Regions from separate parts of the Homo sapiens genome. Here region 2 is linked to region 1. The links come from fine-mapping of genetic effects on gene expression. A gene starts in region 1. The other region holds a variant in brackets. All regions are shown on one strand. Distances are from middle to middle.

The links. PIP is the estimated chance that this variant, and not a neighbour inherited with it, causes the effect.
Region 2: its variant is fine-mapped to the expression of CACNA2D1 in sun-exposed skin (GTEx, PIP above 0.99). The same link has a PIP of 0.9 or more in unexposed skin.

What each region holds. Positions count from the first base shown.
Region 1 is chr7:82,438,836-82,447,182 of GRCh38, forward strand. CACNA2D1 (calcium voltage-gated channel auxiliary subunit alpha2delta 1) reads right to left here and starts at 4,942. Exons shown (of 39, transcript NM_000722.4): 1 at 4,530-4,942. The coding sequence starts at 4,624. RefSeq lists an enhancer at 3,384-3,947.
Region 2 is chr7:82,189,616-82,197,962 of GRCh38, forward strand. The region is part of intron 3 of CACNA2D1 (calcium voltage-gated channel auxiliary subunit alpha2delta 1); the gene reads right to left. Among named protein-coding and RNA genes, the nearest start is that of CACNA2D1-AS1, 180 kb to the left of the region's middle. The variant C/T (reference allele first, on the strand shown) is at 4,659.

The DNA.
Region 1 (8,347 bases):
GACAGCTCTTTTAATAGAAATAATGGACCGTTGTCATTTTAATAACAATAAAATGTTACTTTTTTGAAATACTGAAATTCTGATTTTTTTCCCAAAATGTTATGTATACTTACGTTAGAAATGCTTATGTCCATACATATAAGACATTAAATGAGATCAACAAATTGCATGATTTGCCTAAGATATGTTTCATTTTACCCATTTAAATCTCCAATTTAAAGTTATAAATAGCTTGAAGACATGTGCTAGGAAATTCTTGGAAACTTGCATCTATATTGAGAAATAGGGAAATCAAGAGAAACCTTAAGAGGTGCTTTATATAATGATACTCCAGAGAATATGTAAATTATATAGTTTGTTATGAGCACTATTGTAAAAATTATTTGTAAAATTTCTCAATGCATTATTGTTTATGAATATATACTCCTATATATACTAAATTTTAGCACAATAATAATTTCCATATGTTATGTTTTTGTAAAAATTTACTATGTGTAAACCCTAGAAAGAAGAGTATTTTATTGTTAGTTTTATCAATGTTGGAGAAATAACAGAAAGATGTCTACACAGTCAGTTTGTTGTGAAGAAAACAACTGTAAAGCTCTTATCTATTGTCAAAATGAACCACCTACTTTATATTCAAATTTTATGTATATTTATTAAATTAAATTAATGAAAGCCATGGGAGGGGGAGATAATAAAGGCACATTTCATTTCCCTTTAATAAACCATAATATGCTTAGATTCTTGTATTTTCTTACATTTTTTTCAAAAATTATATCCATTTCAGTCTGCTTAATTTTCATTCAAATGCCAATCCAAATAGCTACACATATAGCTATGTGTAACATTAATAAATTTAACATAATATTACTACTTACGTGGAAAAATATATCTATTGTTGCATATTTTAAAACATACATCTGTGGAATAGTAAATGTTATATGGTTAAGCCGATGAGAACAAAATTAAAGACTTGAGAAAAGTTTATTAATGTTCACTGTTTCAGGTTTTATTTTACATTTAATATTTTATCTCATAATTGATCATATGGCACATTTCCTTGTGTATGTAAAATGTAAACAGAAACTGCTGACTTCAAGTGAGAATAATTATGTCACTTATAATGCATGGAACAGATATCCATTACAATATCCTGACATACAAAATTTCTCCTTTATAGCCTTAAATACAAATTTCTCTAATAACAGGAAAAAAAAATATCCTAAGTAATTAAAGCCAAAAGTACTATACTTCTATGAGAATTTATGCTTATTTCCTGTGGATATCCACAATTCTTAGTTTTATATTTATACCATTGTACACTTTATATTAAAATCCCTGTATACCAATAGGCTCTCAGCCAATTATTGTAGACTGACTGGCATTTTGATGTGACTGAGATAAAAGTTTGATATTAACAGTTATAACTATATATTTTTTAATTGCATTTGTAAATAGATTCTAAAATTAAGGACAAATTTAAATTACCATTATAATACTGGCTATCACACATGTAATTCTAAATATTAAAATAGAAGTCTTTTAACATGTGACAAGAAATTATTTCTAGAAAAACGGACAACTACCCTTTTTGAAAGCTACATTTTAAAAATACCAATACGACATGTGCATACTATAGCATAAAAATGATATATTTTCCATTTATATATCAACCAATACACATTATGTGGCTGCTACCATATCATGTATTTATGTTTCACACCTTAGGGAGACAAACATTTCCAAAAGAAACACCTAACCCAGAGAAATAATCATATCAAAATTTCCTTGTCTGAAAAACATCTATTTTAGTGTTAACTCTTAGAACAGGTTAACTACTACTTTAATCCAAAAGAAAATTTATATTAGAATGTATGTTAAACAGGAGAGCAAAAAATGAAAGAAGATACTTAACTGACACATCATTTGTTTTACCATAATAGAATTTAAGCCCTTCACACAAATGTAAACACTCTATATTTTTAAAAAAAAACTTTGAACTACTAATTCTAATTGAAGTCCAACTCCAATTAGTGCATAATTAATTTTATAGTGTGTGATGGCATGCTCTTCCTCTTCAGCTGATAAAAACTTCTTACATTACTTTTTCTGTGAAAAATGAAACTGGCAAAAAAAAAAACCCAAAAATATTTACTAATGATTCCGAGAGAAATTTACATACAGAAGCATAATAATTTGCCTTTATTGACACTACAGTCTTTGCACTCAGTTTTTATAAATTTGAAATTTTCCCCCAAAGATTTGAGATTTGTCCTGATTAAACAGTGCATATGAATTCTTTTCTCGAAAGAAAAGCAAATGGCACATCTTTATGAAAAATATTGCATTTTTTAATTTCATAAAGTTTATTCAGAAATCTAACATGAAGTACAAATGTCAACCATCAGTTCTTTCCTCAGAAGACAGTGTTACTAACTTTTCAAATGAAAAACTGAAGATGCAGAAGGCTTCCAAAAATATTGTTAAGATTACCTACAGGAGATTGACTTCGCTCCACAAAACCTTTTATTAAGTATTTCATTCATTAAATAATCAATGTCTTATATAATTTGAAAATATCTTGAATTTTCATCGTTAAAAAAAATTTCAGATCCTTCCAAAGAAAAGAAATTGTGATGTCCTACTTCCCATTTTAACCCACTATATATACTCTTTCTTGTGTCTAGTAAATTTCTGACCATGAAAATTGATTTACTTATAATTTTAGGAAAGCATTATTGCAGATGTTCTTCTTAACAATAAGGATTTTTACATTAATATTTTACCACAGTATGTTGAGGAATAAAAGGTTGTATTTTGTTGTAGTTTTCCCCAATGGTATGATGATGTATCCCCTCCCATGATAAAAATATTGATAAATTGTCAGTTAAAAACAACACTGTAAAAATGAGTAATCGGAACACATTTAGGAAGTGATTGTTTTTTAAAGAGCCACTTATTTATTTGACACAGAATGCAAGCGACTCATTTGAGTTCTCACTTTACAGGCCAAGCAACAAACAGACTTAAAAAATTAAATGGAAGTGTGATGCCTTAATAAGAGTAAATAATTCTGAAGCATCCTTAGGGTGATTCTTACTCTTTTTATGTTTAAAAATATCTGACTGGAACATCCTGCCAATTAAACGAAGATCTCCAGATGGCATTTACCCTTTTGCTTCATAACAAAAAGGATCTGCAATCAGTTTTATGGAAGATTATCTAAAGAGGAACATTACTGTAACTCAATGACAACAAAAATTAGACACTCCCCTTCTCCGGGATAGAATGTGCATCCTCCAGATTCTTGCACTGACACCTAAGGTAATAAATACTTAAAACTGAATCTTAAATAATAGCCGCAGGATTTCAACCGCTAAAGATTCACTGTTACTTTCCACCAAAAACTCCTGTATTCAGCACTCAGCCAACAAAGGACAGCAAGTAATTCCCAGCAGCATAAATACCGGGAAAGCTACCTTGGGCTTTGTTTTTGTTATGTAAAATGCATTAAAGTGACTCATCCACTTAAGATTACCTACCTTTAGAAGCTTTAAAGAAGCTCCAAGAACCAAAATAAATGCTTTCCCAGAATGCCGGATAGGCTATTCGGTGCATTAAAAAATATGTATATATTTATATGTGCCATTGAGTTTGATTCTATTTTGCTAAGAAAGGAGAGAATTATTATTTTTCATTCCCTTCCTGTGGTGTGACTATAGCTACCTATAAGCCCTCTATTTCCAGAACAGCAGCGAGGTTTTTAAAAGTTATTTTAGAAATGGTAAAAATAAAAGAAAATTTGTAGGAGACTGGAAATAGTCCCTCCTTCAAAGAATAGGCTCTATTCATTTGAAGAACAGGGACCGCGTGTCTGCCGACACTTAGATGTTTCAAATAATGGGTTGGGGAGGTTGGATCGCGTGGTCCCAGTACCTGCGAGCCCCCTGCGTGGACAGCACGCTCGGCCGCGGGGAGCCAGCACGCGTCTAATCGGAAGGCTGTCAAGTGCATCCAGTAACGTGGGATAAAACGAGTTTGGGCACTACAGCAATTAAAGAGCATCTCCGAGGCCAAGTGCGGGGGAAGTCCACGCTACCTCGGCAAGCCTGAAATTACCTGTTTGTAAATTACCCAACCAAAACATAACTTTTTATTGAACTGGGTTGAATCAGAGCGGGTGAGCTGGCTGGAAACTTTTTTCCCCAGTACGGCTGCACTCTGAAGTCTAGAGAATCCCGTTAGAGACGGGCTGAGACGCCGCGAGTCGTCGGCGGGCGCTTCCCGGGACAGTCGGCCCCCAGTGCCCGGCCCCGTGGAGGCGCCCGAGACGCCGGTTCGGGACGCATTCCAGCGGCGAGCGGCGCGCACCGCCTGCCCGGCGTCTCCGCATCCGAGCCTGGCTCCCCGGCCGCTCGCTCCCCACCCCCACGGGCGGAAAAGCCCCGCGACTCGGGAACCGACCCCCACCCCCAACTCCCGCGGCGCCCCTCGGCCGGCGCTCCCTGCCCGGCCCGCCGACTTACGTGACGGCCGAAGGGAACGGCTCCTCCGACGAGGGGCCGATGAGCAAAGATTGGAAAAGTGTCAGAGTCAAGGCCAGCAGGCAGCCAGCAGCCATCTTCGCGATCGAAGATCAATGCCCCCTCCCTGCCCAAGCGGGGGAAGGAGCGGCGCTGGAAACCGCGGGCGGAGGAAGAGCAGCACACGCCGCCGGGACCGCGGGCGTCTGGAGGGCTGGCTGCGCCCGGGGCCCGAGGCGCGGAGCCGCGCGGGGGACGGCAAGGGCGGGAGCGGACGCCGAGGAAGGGGCGGTGGCGGGCGGACCCACTAGCGTGCGTCGGCTGCTCCGCGCCGCGGCCGCCTTGCCTCCGCCGCCATCAAGGGCGACTTTGGAAACAGACCTCGGCGAGCCCGCCGGCGCTCGCGCGCTCTCGCTCTCCCTCTCGGTTTCCTCCCTGATTTATTCCCCCGATTGCCGAGGCGAAGGCGGAGGCGGGGGCGGGGGCGGAGGAGGGGTGACGGCGCTGGAGGGTGGGGGTGGCTGCAGGAATCGGGGAATGGCAGGCAGAGAGACTTGTGGAAGCGAGAGGCTCCGTCTGGCTTCTTAGGCAAGTCAGAGGGAGGCGGCTGGGGGTGGGCAGCGGGAGGGCTGGGCGTCAGAGCAGTCGGGCGGAGACGGGCCGGGAGCAGCCCTCCATACAAGGCAGCCAGGAACTCCCAAAGTCGGCGCCGGCTCGCTCCCGCCGCCCGGCGTGCGCAGGCGGAGCGGACCAGCCCCGCGGGGCTCCCGGGGGACGGCCAGCCGCCCAGCGGGCATCCACAGGCTGCAGAGGCTCCAACCCAGGACTTGGCTCGCGTCTTCGGGGGTTATTTTTGCACATGCAGGCAGCGTTCCCCCCCAGCCCTACTCCCAGGCGCAGAATCCAGTGCCTGCCTGGGAATCGTGAAGTGATTTGACAACAAATGTAGGAGGGGTTTGTATTGCATTTTAAAGCACCACTGTTGACTCTCTACCAGGTGGCACTATATGCCCGCGTGTGCCATAGGTTAGAGCCTCTGCCGGGGCTGGGTGCCCTTTGTGCCAGCGGTCCCACGCCCAGGTACTGCTCGGCTCACCTGGCGAGGACAGAGCCTCAGGGACCGGGCTGTGGACGGACAGAGAAGTACTGACGCTGTAAAATCTTCCCAGCCCTGTGGTTCCATTGGACAGAGGGGTGGAGGGACGAATTCTGCATCTAGGGAGGACAGTAGTAAGAGAAGCGCTTTGCAGCATCCCAGTTGGGACTACCTCCAAAAGGGTCCTAACGCCCTGCTCTGGCCACTGGCCTGCCCTGCCTGACAAGGTTACCGCAGGGTGAGCTCACTTTTGTCAATGCGAAGGCATGAAAAGGGTAAGCAGCAGGAACAGGTGGCACTCTGAGAAATGCGCCTGAAATGTAGAGGAGGAATTAAGGGAGGGGGAGAGAGCTAGGGAGTAGCAATGCCGGACTGGTTTTATCTCCAGACTCAGAGGAAGCAGTGGCGGGCTTTCTCCTTGAAAAGACAGGGTCTGCGACTAGGCCTCTCCCGCCCAACACAGGCCTCCTACAAGAGGGCCCTGGTGGGCCAAAGATAGAAATATATTCTTGCACACCTTAAATTCTTAAGCTCCCTCTAGTAGTGTATGAGAATACTTTTGACATGACGTGCAGAGAATACAATTTGTGATGACTATCCTGCATATGCAAAAATTCTGTAAGTATCGGGGTGGCTGTCAGATTTTTAATTAGCCCGTTCTTATTTTTAGGAGATGCTTCTGAAAGAAAAAGACCCTTATTAATTCGAAATGAATTTTCCAGCTCTCTGAAGGCAATCTCCCAAAACAAAGACTAATAATAATACTACTACTATTAATTACTGGCCAAATTTTAAGAGCGTGTGTGATTTTATGATGCTTAGCCTGGTGAATTTATTTTTCCTTCCCACTTATTTCTCCTTTTTTTAATGCCTTATTTGTTTTCTTTATGTTCTTCGCATCTCTGTCTTGCTCTTTGTTTCTTTCTACTCTGAGTGGCCTCACAAAAGGCACCCCACCGTGACTTAACTTAGTTTGTTTTATGCTAGGCATGGATACTGTGGCAGCAGGAGCTGCGCAAATGAGGGATGAAGTGGGATGTAATGGGATTGAGAACTACAGCTCAGGAGGGATATTTTATATAACTGAAGATAGCATTCCACTCCAAAATTAGATAAGTAAATAGTCAAATCCATCATTTCTTCCATTTTTAATAATTCAAAAGCAGACTTTCTTCCCCAGCATGAGGACTAAGAAGAGCAGAATTAGAGATGCCCATTATTGTCTATGTGATATGTTGGTATCAATAGCCTCACTACCTAAAAATACCATTGTTATATATTCTGTCAATTATTTCAACATCAACTCCAGACTTCCCACTATGGTACACTGTTTCCAATTTTATATCTTTAGGAGAAAGGGCTTAAAGAATAAAAGAATGTAATAAGCTTGTAGAGAAGGTAAGTCAGCCTTTATTATTAACTTTGTTGGCCTTTGAGCCAAATCTCAATTTCTTTGGATCACTCTGTTGAAGCACTGAGTTCTCCAATATGTGAAGCTGTTGAGGAAAGATATTGCTTCTACAATTCTTACTGAAAGGGTTGGTTATCATCTGTGAGCCTAAATCATTGTTTAATACTCTGTTGCGAGGTTTGCTATTAATTGCTTTTTACCAATCTAAACCTTCTTATTGAGGATATTCAAAATGTGGTTTTTTTTTAAATGTATGACAGCTAAAAGAAGACCATTTCCATAACATAGCATTAGGTTTCTGTTGGATTAACTATACCCATAACAATGCATTTTTTCAGCTCAGTTCTGTTATTTTGGAAAATTCCCTTAAAATCAGATTATATCCCATTAATCTTAATAAAATTTTGCTTAATCACGATAAATTTGCTGTTCAACATGTTGACAAATCATAAGGATTGTTGTTAAGCTGTTATAGTAAATGATGTAAATGTGCAGTAAATACAGTTAATATATTACAGGTTATAAATGAGCAAGAAGTCGCAAATCAGTATCTACTATTCATTTAAGAAGAAATATTTTAATTAGTAAGTTAGTGAAGTATTGCAGGAGATTTTTGCATTTAATCATTTCTAGAACAAAGTTTAAAGAGATTTAATTCATGCAAATCACTGACCTTTACCTACAACAAACTTGCGATTGGCACCTTTTGGCTAAATCTCAGTTTTTAATTCATATATTTAATTTGTTCATATACATTTCATTTTTTAGTAACTAAAAGTGAATAAAGAACAATAAAAACTTGATTGCCATGAAATGTTTATTCTTCCTTTTTTTAGGTGATACTGTGAATGTTGGCAGCATAAAATTATGTTTTTGTTGTAGTTTTTATATGAGTATATGTATGTACAAACATTTTTCTGTGATTTTTTTCAGTAAATCAAATCTAATTTCTTCAACATTTTGCCTGAAAAAATGAGACAGAGTAACCTAATTGAAATTATTTAATCTTTCTCTCTTTTTGTTCTCATGTACAAACAGGCAAACCCAAACACTGAAAAGGAAAATAATTATCCTTAGCCAAAAAAATTTAAAGGAAATAATTAACTTTCATATTACTTTCCACATCTTAAGAAAACTAAGGTGAAAACCTTGACAAAGGGCCTTATTTGCTTGTATGCATATAGGTGTATATGACTCATCTCTGAGATAGACATACTGTTAAGAGTCATAATCAGAAAAACTTGTGATTTGAGATGGTACTATGCTTCCATGCACACAAAGATGTGTGCCAGAGAAAGTGAAAAGTAAAGACAA
Region 2 (8,347 bases), 250 kb before region 1:
TTATTTTAAAATAAGAGATACCAACTGAATATGGCAAGTCTGAGTAAAGACTCAGAGGAGTGAATACTGTGGAATAATGGAAGAGTATAAAAGAGCTTGACACAGAAAAGAATACATAAGGGAGAAGAATACGGACAAAAAAATTTGTGTAAGAAAAATTTCAACTTTCATTCATTGTCACTGACTTTTTTACCAGGCTAGTGCTGGAAATAGATTAAAAATGCAAAGTAGCTGCATTAAGATTACTCATGATTTTGCTTTAGGAAAAAAATTAAACTAATTGTAAAAGTTATTAATAAAAGGTTTACATTAGATAAATGAAATGATAGGAGCCACAAACGTTATTATGCTTATATTTCAAAGATAAGTGATTTAGAATTAGTTTTTCATTTCAAATAATTAGGTAACCCTACTTTGCCTTGAAACAATTCTGTTATGAAGTTTGCAACAGAACTGTGTAGTATTCAATGATGAGAAACTGTCATTTTGGGCCTCTTTAGTGAAGGGTTGTTACGAGTCAGAGAAGCAAAGTTTTATAATTGAAAGTAAACAATCTTAGTCACTAAAATGATATTGTTATTCACCTCCACAGAAAGAATCATCTCAACAGCAAGACTGCATTACTCTTGTTCTATGCATGAGGAATTTAGTTTATCAATTAGTTTTTCTTTATCCTGAATGTGAGCCAATGTTTAATTGCTTCATATCCATAATTGTATTAACTATGAATAAATTGTTTTAAGAAAAAAATCTGCTCCGTGGCACAAAGGAGATTAATTACTAAAAGACAATAGCAATTCTTTGCTATCAATCAAAGATGCAGAATAGCATGGCTACCTAATGAGGATTCAGCTTCATTAACTTTCCTCAAATCTCATTTGTAATATGAAACATCACCATATATTCAATTCCCAGAAAGATAAATTTAATCAACCCAGTAGTGTGTGGATTTGTTTACACCACCCTTACCCATCATCCAACTGCAATTCCAAGTCCTTTTCAAACTGTAATACTTTCATACCAAATTTTTTTTGATAGAGCTTTGGGCCATTTTCAATAAAATAATGAAATCCTCCCAATATCCTTAAATCCATCACCATTTCCTCTTGGTATTATGAAAAAAAGAAATTCATAGAATCATATATTGTTAGAGACTGGAAGGGATCTTAGGAGTCATTGGATCTATCCCTATCATTTTACAGAATGACAAACTAGATTACTTAAAGAAAATTTCTCTTTGAGCCTTGAAAAGTCAACAGGAGCCATCAAAAAACATTTTTCTTAAAAGGGAGAGAATGCCATTGAATGACACTACAAAATTACAAAATATGTTCCATTGTATATGTATAGGTAAACAATTAACTTTTAATAGGTATACTGTTAATGGGGGCAATAATAAACACTATGCTGATAAAGAAGATAAAGGTCTTATGTACAACTCAAGAACGTCTATAATCTGTAAAGATTTTAGCTTTTCTCTCATCCCAAACTCACAATCCCCTTATTACATAATTATTTATACAGGATTTATAAAGAGAAATCAAAGAGTTAAGGGATCACAAAATTAGTAATTTGCCTTAATCATTATTAGAAAACACGTGCTTACTATACATTTATTGATTGTACTTTTTTAAACTTAAGTTACATCTTTGCATCTATTCAATATAATAATTCTAGCATGCTTACTTATTCAAATATAATTTATTTCCAGTCTGGGAAATAATTTTTCAAAAGCGATTAGTTTAAAAGATTTTTGTAGTATTAGCTTTCTGATAAAAGCTTTGAGAATTTCCCAGAGCAATCTGAATTTATCGAGCTGCTTTTCAGCAAAAAGGTGTTTAATTAGGTTGTCTCACACTTCTCTAAACCTGAAAACCTAATCACCACCTTATAACTCAAAGAACACAAAGGCAAGTTGCTTTGACAATTACCCCGTGTAAAATCTTTGGTTTTTCCTTCTACTCATTCCTAACTTCTATCAGGAAGAACTTTGACTTTACAAATGTTTTATATATTTTTAAATCAAAGGAAAAGTTAAAGAAAAAAATCAAAGTCATAACATGAATAAATAATTTCCTTCCTCTCTTGTTAGAGGCATACGTGTGTATGTGTTCATATAATCAACTGCAAGTATAAACAGACGTTTGAAAGCAGCAAATCAAAAACCATGAATAAAGTAAATCAAAAAAAGAGAAAAAGTGAATTATTTTATTAATGAATATATTTCAAAGAAATAGGCTGTAACATACAAGCTTAATGAGATACGCTTTTCTCTCAATGAGGTTTCATATTCATCTTAGAAATACAAAGAATGATTATTATCATCTATTGTGAGTGTAAGCACTCTATCATGCAAAGAAATCTCACCACATACTGTGGAAAACTTCTTAAAGTTGTATTTTCACAAATTCATGCATCTAAAAAAATGTTTGACTCTTCTCTATCCCTCTTTACCTTACTCTGTACTATCAGATACATAACTTTAGGCATGAAAATACAGTTCCTGCCCTCAAGAACTTTCAAATTTAATGTAAAGAAACAGAAAATGAAAAAAAAAACCTAAATAGAATGACTTTGTGTCCAAAAGTCATTTCATATTCAGTAAGATTCCAAACAAGAAAACAAGGTGGATATGACATAAAATCACTTAGTGCTGAGTGCCAAGCATTGTATTAGGTAATTTCACAATAACTCTATTAATAGGTATTACTATCACCATACTAAATGCTTAGAAACTCATTCAGAACAGGCCCCAAGTTATCTAGTTAACAAAAAACAGGGGAAATATATATATATATATATATATGTCTATATGTCTGTGTGTGTGTGTATGTGTGTTTGTGTTTGTGTGTGTGTGTGTGTGTGTGTGTGTGTGTGTGTGTGTGTGTGTGTGTGAATATAGAGACAGGTAAAAAGAATCAAGGGTCAATCCTTGAGAAATATCTGTGTATAAAGTAGAAAGATCAACAGAATCAGTGAAGAAAACAGAAATTAAGAATTCAAGATGTGTAAGTATTAAATGAACTCTCTTTGACTGAGCCAACTGCCTGGCAGATAATCCTATGTCTTCTATGCAATACTCTCTGTTGATTCTATGTAGATTTTCAAATGCTATTAACCTGAGCAGCTGTTCCTTTTTTTTTTTTTCCTGAAACATCTAACTTTTCTTCTGTAACTCTAACTAAACACACACACACACACACAAACACTATACATTTGATCTCCGTACTTTGAGATTGCTCCAGAATATATTATTATCTTGCATAGTACCATCTACCTTGACTTGTACAGAAAATATTAGATGGTTAATGATATTTTAGTCATAATTTCTTTAAAACAAAAAGTTATTTTATGAAGGTCGTCTTGAAAGCATCAGTTAAACTGGAACTAGATCCCATTTGTTCTAATTCCCAGTCCCCTTTGTCTGATGCTTCTTCTGCTAAAATACATTGGTAAGTGATGTGCTGTTCTCAAGGGGTCGTACAAGGATTTAGCCGAAGCTTTATAGTTAGCTTTGGAATGAGAATTGCACTTTACCCGGGCTTCAACCCCTCATAATTCAAGTAAATAAGGCCAAACAGGTACGATAAATAATTAAATACTATTAATGTTAGACACAGTTTGAAATTTTTCTGAAGATACTTTGAACAATGCACATTTACAGATTACCTACTTCTTAAAATTACTAATGGCAACATCACAATAAAAAATTAATAGCTTCTATCATGTGTGTCCAAAATAGTCCCGGGCAAACTGACAAATATCTGGGATATTTTAGCAGTTTTTGGAATTAACAATAATTGCTATCATTGTAGTTTGCCAAATCTTTTGAGATGCGTGGGTTTGTGGAAATATATTTAAGTCTAAAAAGATTAAGCGTGAACCAAAATGAAATGTCTCATTTTTTAAGTAGATTTAAAAATAATTAAATGAAACATTTATTACACTTGAGCACACCATAATCTATGGAAATGCATACTATATTGAAGTGAGTACAAAAAAGTTAAGGCATTGCATTTTATGGTTAGATTTTTCCGAATCACTTTTACAATGTTTCGCAGGTTTGCTGAAATTTATCTTCCCCCCAACAAGCGAAATTCAGTATTTGAAGAGTAGGCATTATTGAAAACAAATTTGTTTAACATAGTAGCCAGTTACATACTTGATATGTTTTGTGTTTGTCTTGATTAGCTGCTTTACAACCTGAAAATTCATTTTGTGGTGCTGAATAAAATCAAAGAACGTATTTACTTACAAATAATGGCTTTCAAAACATTCCCTTTATCTATTATGCATATTTTATCAACTTTATGTCATATTTTTAAAAGCATCATATCTGTATAATTGCTTTCATGGTGCACTGGAATCCCACTATAATAATTTTGGCATCAAAATTATAAGGCTACATTGTTGTTCTGGTAACGAATCTCCTTAAAGGAAGTAGTTTGTGTTGAATTAAATTTCTAAAGCTAAATGACTTTATTAGAGTAAGATTTCAAAGTAGCTGCTAAAAGCTGTGTGTATTTCTACATGAGTTGGCATGAGCCAGTGACAGAGTGTGAATCATTCTCCCATCAGCTGCTCCGTAGGGCTGGGTTATCAATTATCATAAGCAACCTCCAGTTGGTAGTCAAGCTATGGCTCAAGAGCTCCGGTGA[C/T]TGTCTCAACCCCACCCTTGAAGATAACAAACCTCATTTTGCTTTGTGCCAAAAATGACAAACTCCTGCATGTTCATGCAGGGATAGCAAAATATGTCCTTATTTCTTATGCTGGAATGGCAAAAAACAAAACAAAAAAGTTTCTTCTCTTAATGATTTGTGTGTATGCTGGAGTATGCATATGTAAATACCAAGCAAGAGTTGAAGTAGTTACATAGTGGATCTCACATCCACTTTTCTTTATATCTTCACTTTTTTTAATGAATAATAGCTATTAAACTAAAGTCCAAGCTGAAACATTCTAAGTTTTAATGAGAAGAGAGGGCAAACAATACTCTATCATGTTTTCATTTGACATTTATATATATTACGATATATTTTAATGAAAAATTAATTTTGAAAACATCTTCAGATTTGGGGAAAGGGCAGCAGTAACAACAATGTCTGGCAAAGGTCAGATCAGGGAGAAGAGATAACAGTAAAATTATCTGTGAGGAAGAACTGGAAAACCTACGATAAGAAATAACTCTCAAGTGCATTCTAGAATGAAGTAAGAGTCTGTGAAAATACTTGATAATGAAAGGTAAGCAGTATTGTACTTTCACATCTATCCAGCACAAGAATGGGGGGCGGGGGAGATAGAGACAGAGACTGAGATTCCAAGTAGTCATATGAAGATAATCGTAATAGGCACAGACAGCACTTTAAGTTGCACTCTTTTATCTTTTACAGAAAATGTTTCATGTGCAATTCTGTTTCTCTTTCTAGTGACATATACTTAAAGTATCTTTTCAGATTTATATTTTATCTCAACTCAATGATTCCATTACCAATTAATTTTTGTTTACAAAATTATTTAACCTATACTCTGTTAATGACACTGCAATTAGTACCAGGGATACAGATTTAAAAGAGAGTCCCTAGATTATAGAACAGTCTCATAAGGGAAATAGATGAGACCATCACTATCTGGGTTGATGCGTGATGGGATGGAAGTGAGTGGTGTGCCGTAGAACACATAAGGTAACACTTCATGTAAAATGGGGTGGGATATGGTATTAGGGAAGGTTCCATTGAAAAGGTGATTCCAAATAAAGATTCAGGAATCACCTTTGGTGATGAAGGAAGGAGGTCCAAAGTATATTGATACAGCACAGATTGGAGATTGGAGGGATAGTGGTGAAAGATGAGGGTAGTTAAATAGGAAACAAATATTCTGTTTAAAGATCGTGCTTACTATTAGAACTGGATTTTTGTTTTTAGGTCTGTAGAATATTGTAGGGACAAATAAATTGCCTTTCTTCTTTGCCAGGTGAAATCTCCTGTCTCTAACCCAACATGTTATCTCTCCCAGAGTCTATAATTTCCTAATCAATTTCATGTATTTAAAAAAAAAAAAACCCTCTGGCCTAACAAAATCTCTACCAAATTGAAACCTTTCAACCCTTTCACAGCTTGGCCTGGCTCACCCTGAGAAGTTCACAGAATAATCTGCACCACAGAGTCATAGCTCTGTGACTACCATCCCACACTTTTGCAACTCTTAATGACTGGATCAGAGGAGGGAGGATAGATAATGGCAGAAAGGGTCTTAACTCAGCTGCAGAGAGTTACACTTTGCAGTGGGTGGGTGTAGAGAAATTCTAGTGCTGACTGTCTCCTGGAAAGCTTTTGCAGTTCTGCAGAAATTCCCACTTTGGGGTTATCTAAATGTAGTCACTGAGCAATTGTGATTCCTTCCCCAGCTACTCAGTGAGCCTGTCCATAAAATCTGGATTCTACTAATTTACAACCACCTCTTTTGGTTGGAGACATCTTGATCCCCCTACCCACAGCCAACCAACTATCCTCTTTGCTTTTTATTACATAGCTTCAAAGTAGAAGATTAGCTAAGGTTAGAACTAGATTTTGGAACCATTTTGCAAGTCCATATACATGGTCTAATAACTCTCTTTAAAGTAAGGATGTTTGGCATTCATAACCACTAGCTTTGGGGCCTAGCCAAAATTTCCAGACAGGAAGAGTGCCATGTTAACAACCAGTTTACTACACTATGAGGTTTGGATTTTGTCATAAAGACAATGCTAGAAGAATTCTATGGGGGATGCTTGAAAAGGCAGACTAGCTGGACACACCTGAGGTGGGGATTCCTGTTGGATAGCTACTGCATTGCTACAGTAGGGAGAAAACGACAGGATCACAGATCTAACTAGTGCCATTAGGAATGGTGCTGTGGAAAAAGATTCAAGAAATACTAAGGAAGGAGAATTGAGATGATTTAGGCTTGGAGCTTGTTGTTTTAGTTGGTCTGTTTGTAGATTTGTTTGCCTTAGAGGAAGCACAAGAGAAAACAGGGACAGTTGATGGAGGGGAGCAAAGTCATTAGAGAGTAAGGAAAAAGACTGAAATAACAAGAGAAGATTGTTAGACTTGAACAAAATAGACTCCGATTTATATTTGTCAGAAATAAGAGAGATAGATAAAGACGATTCAGGATGAGAATAGTCTGGGCAAAGAAACTGAGGTAGTTCTCATCTGGTACATTTTTTTTTTTTATATATGTGAATAGAGGATGGTTGCCTTAAAATGAAAGAGGATATGGTAGAGTGGGAGAAAAGTAATACAAATTTGAAATAATACACTTCTTTGGGGAATTGAGCAAGGGAATTATCTAAGAATAAATAGATTTTACACTCTTCAATTTTCTGAGGAAAAGTATCCTTTTCTCATGTAATTTTTTTAAAGTCAAAGTACTGAATAATAAGAATCAGTGAAAAATTGTGGCTAGTTTAAGCATGTTGCTATCAAATAAATGCCTTAATTGTTTTGACACAGAGAAGAAAATGTGTCTCCAAGGTTACATCGTTGGATATGAAAATTTATAGAAAAATTAATCTTTACTAAAGATTACTTAATTAGGAACATTGTTATTGTGACAGAATATATTATATAAGAGTATTCAGAAACAAAACCTAAGGTTTAAGGAAAATTTATGAGATGAATAGGAACAGGAAATTTTACATTTCACCCTATCAGCGGTTCTCTGAATAATACATCTGATGTTTTAAGCACTCCAGAATACATTTCCAAAATAAACTGATTTTTCTAATTCAAGATTATTAGAAATGTTTAAAATCATGTATGTGCTACAACTTTGTAACTATAAATCATAACATAAATGTAAGGCATTATACCACAAAAACTAGAATTGACAGGCATATAATTTTCTAGTATATGGGGCTGAGAAATGAATTACAAATGGTCTTTTTGTTGTATGGTAGAAATCACTTTTAATGCAGTGTGATGTGTCACAAGCACTAAAGAAATAACAAGGCTTTGATAATCCTGGTCATTCTCCATAAATTCTGTTGTTACGTGGCATGTGCCTCAGGGACGACACAGACAAGTTACCAGTTTTCAGAAGAATTAAACATTCAGCTACAATTACTTTTAACATAATATGCATGAAAATAACATTTCCAAGAAGAAAATTAAGCATATATTTTCTCCTTCTAATGTCTTTTTTAAACTATACAAACACACACACACACACTACCATGTGTTTTAATTATATCTTATCTTGCTATCCCATCAGTTATATTTATGGGAAATGTGCATATATATGACATTATGCACACACACACACATATGTCTACCTGGAATAAAGGCAAAATATATGCAACACATTT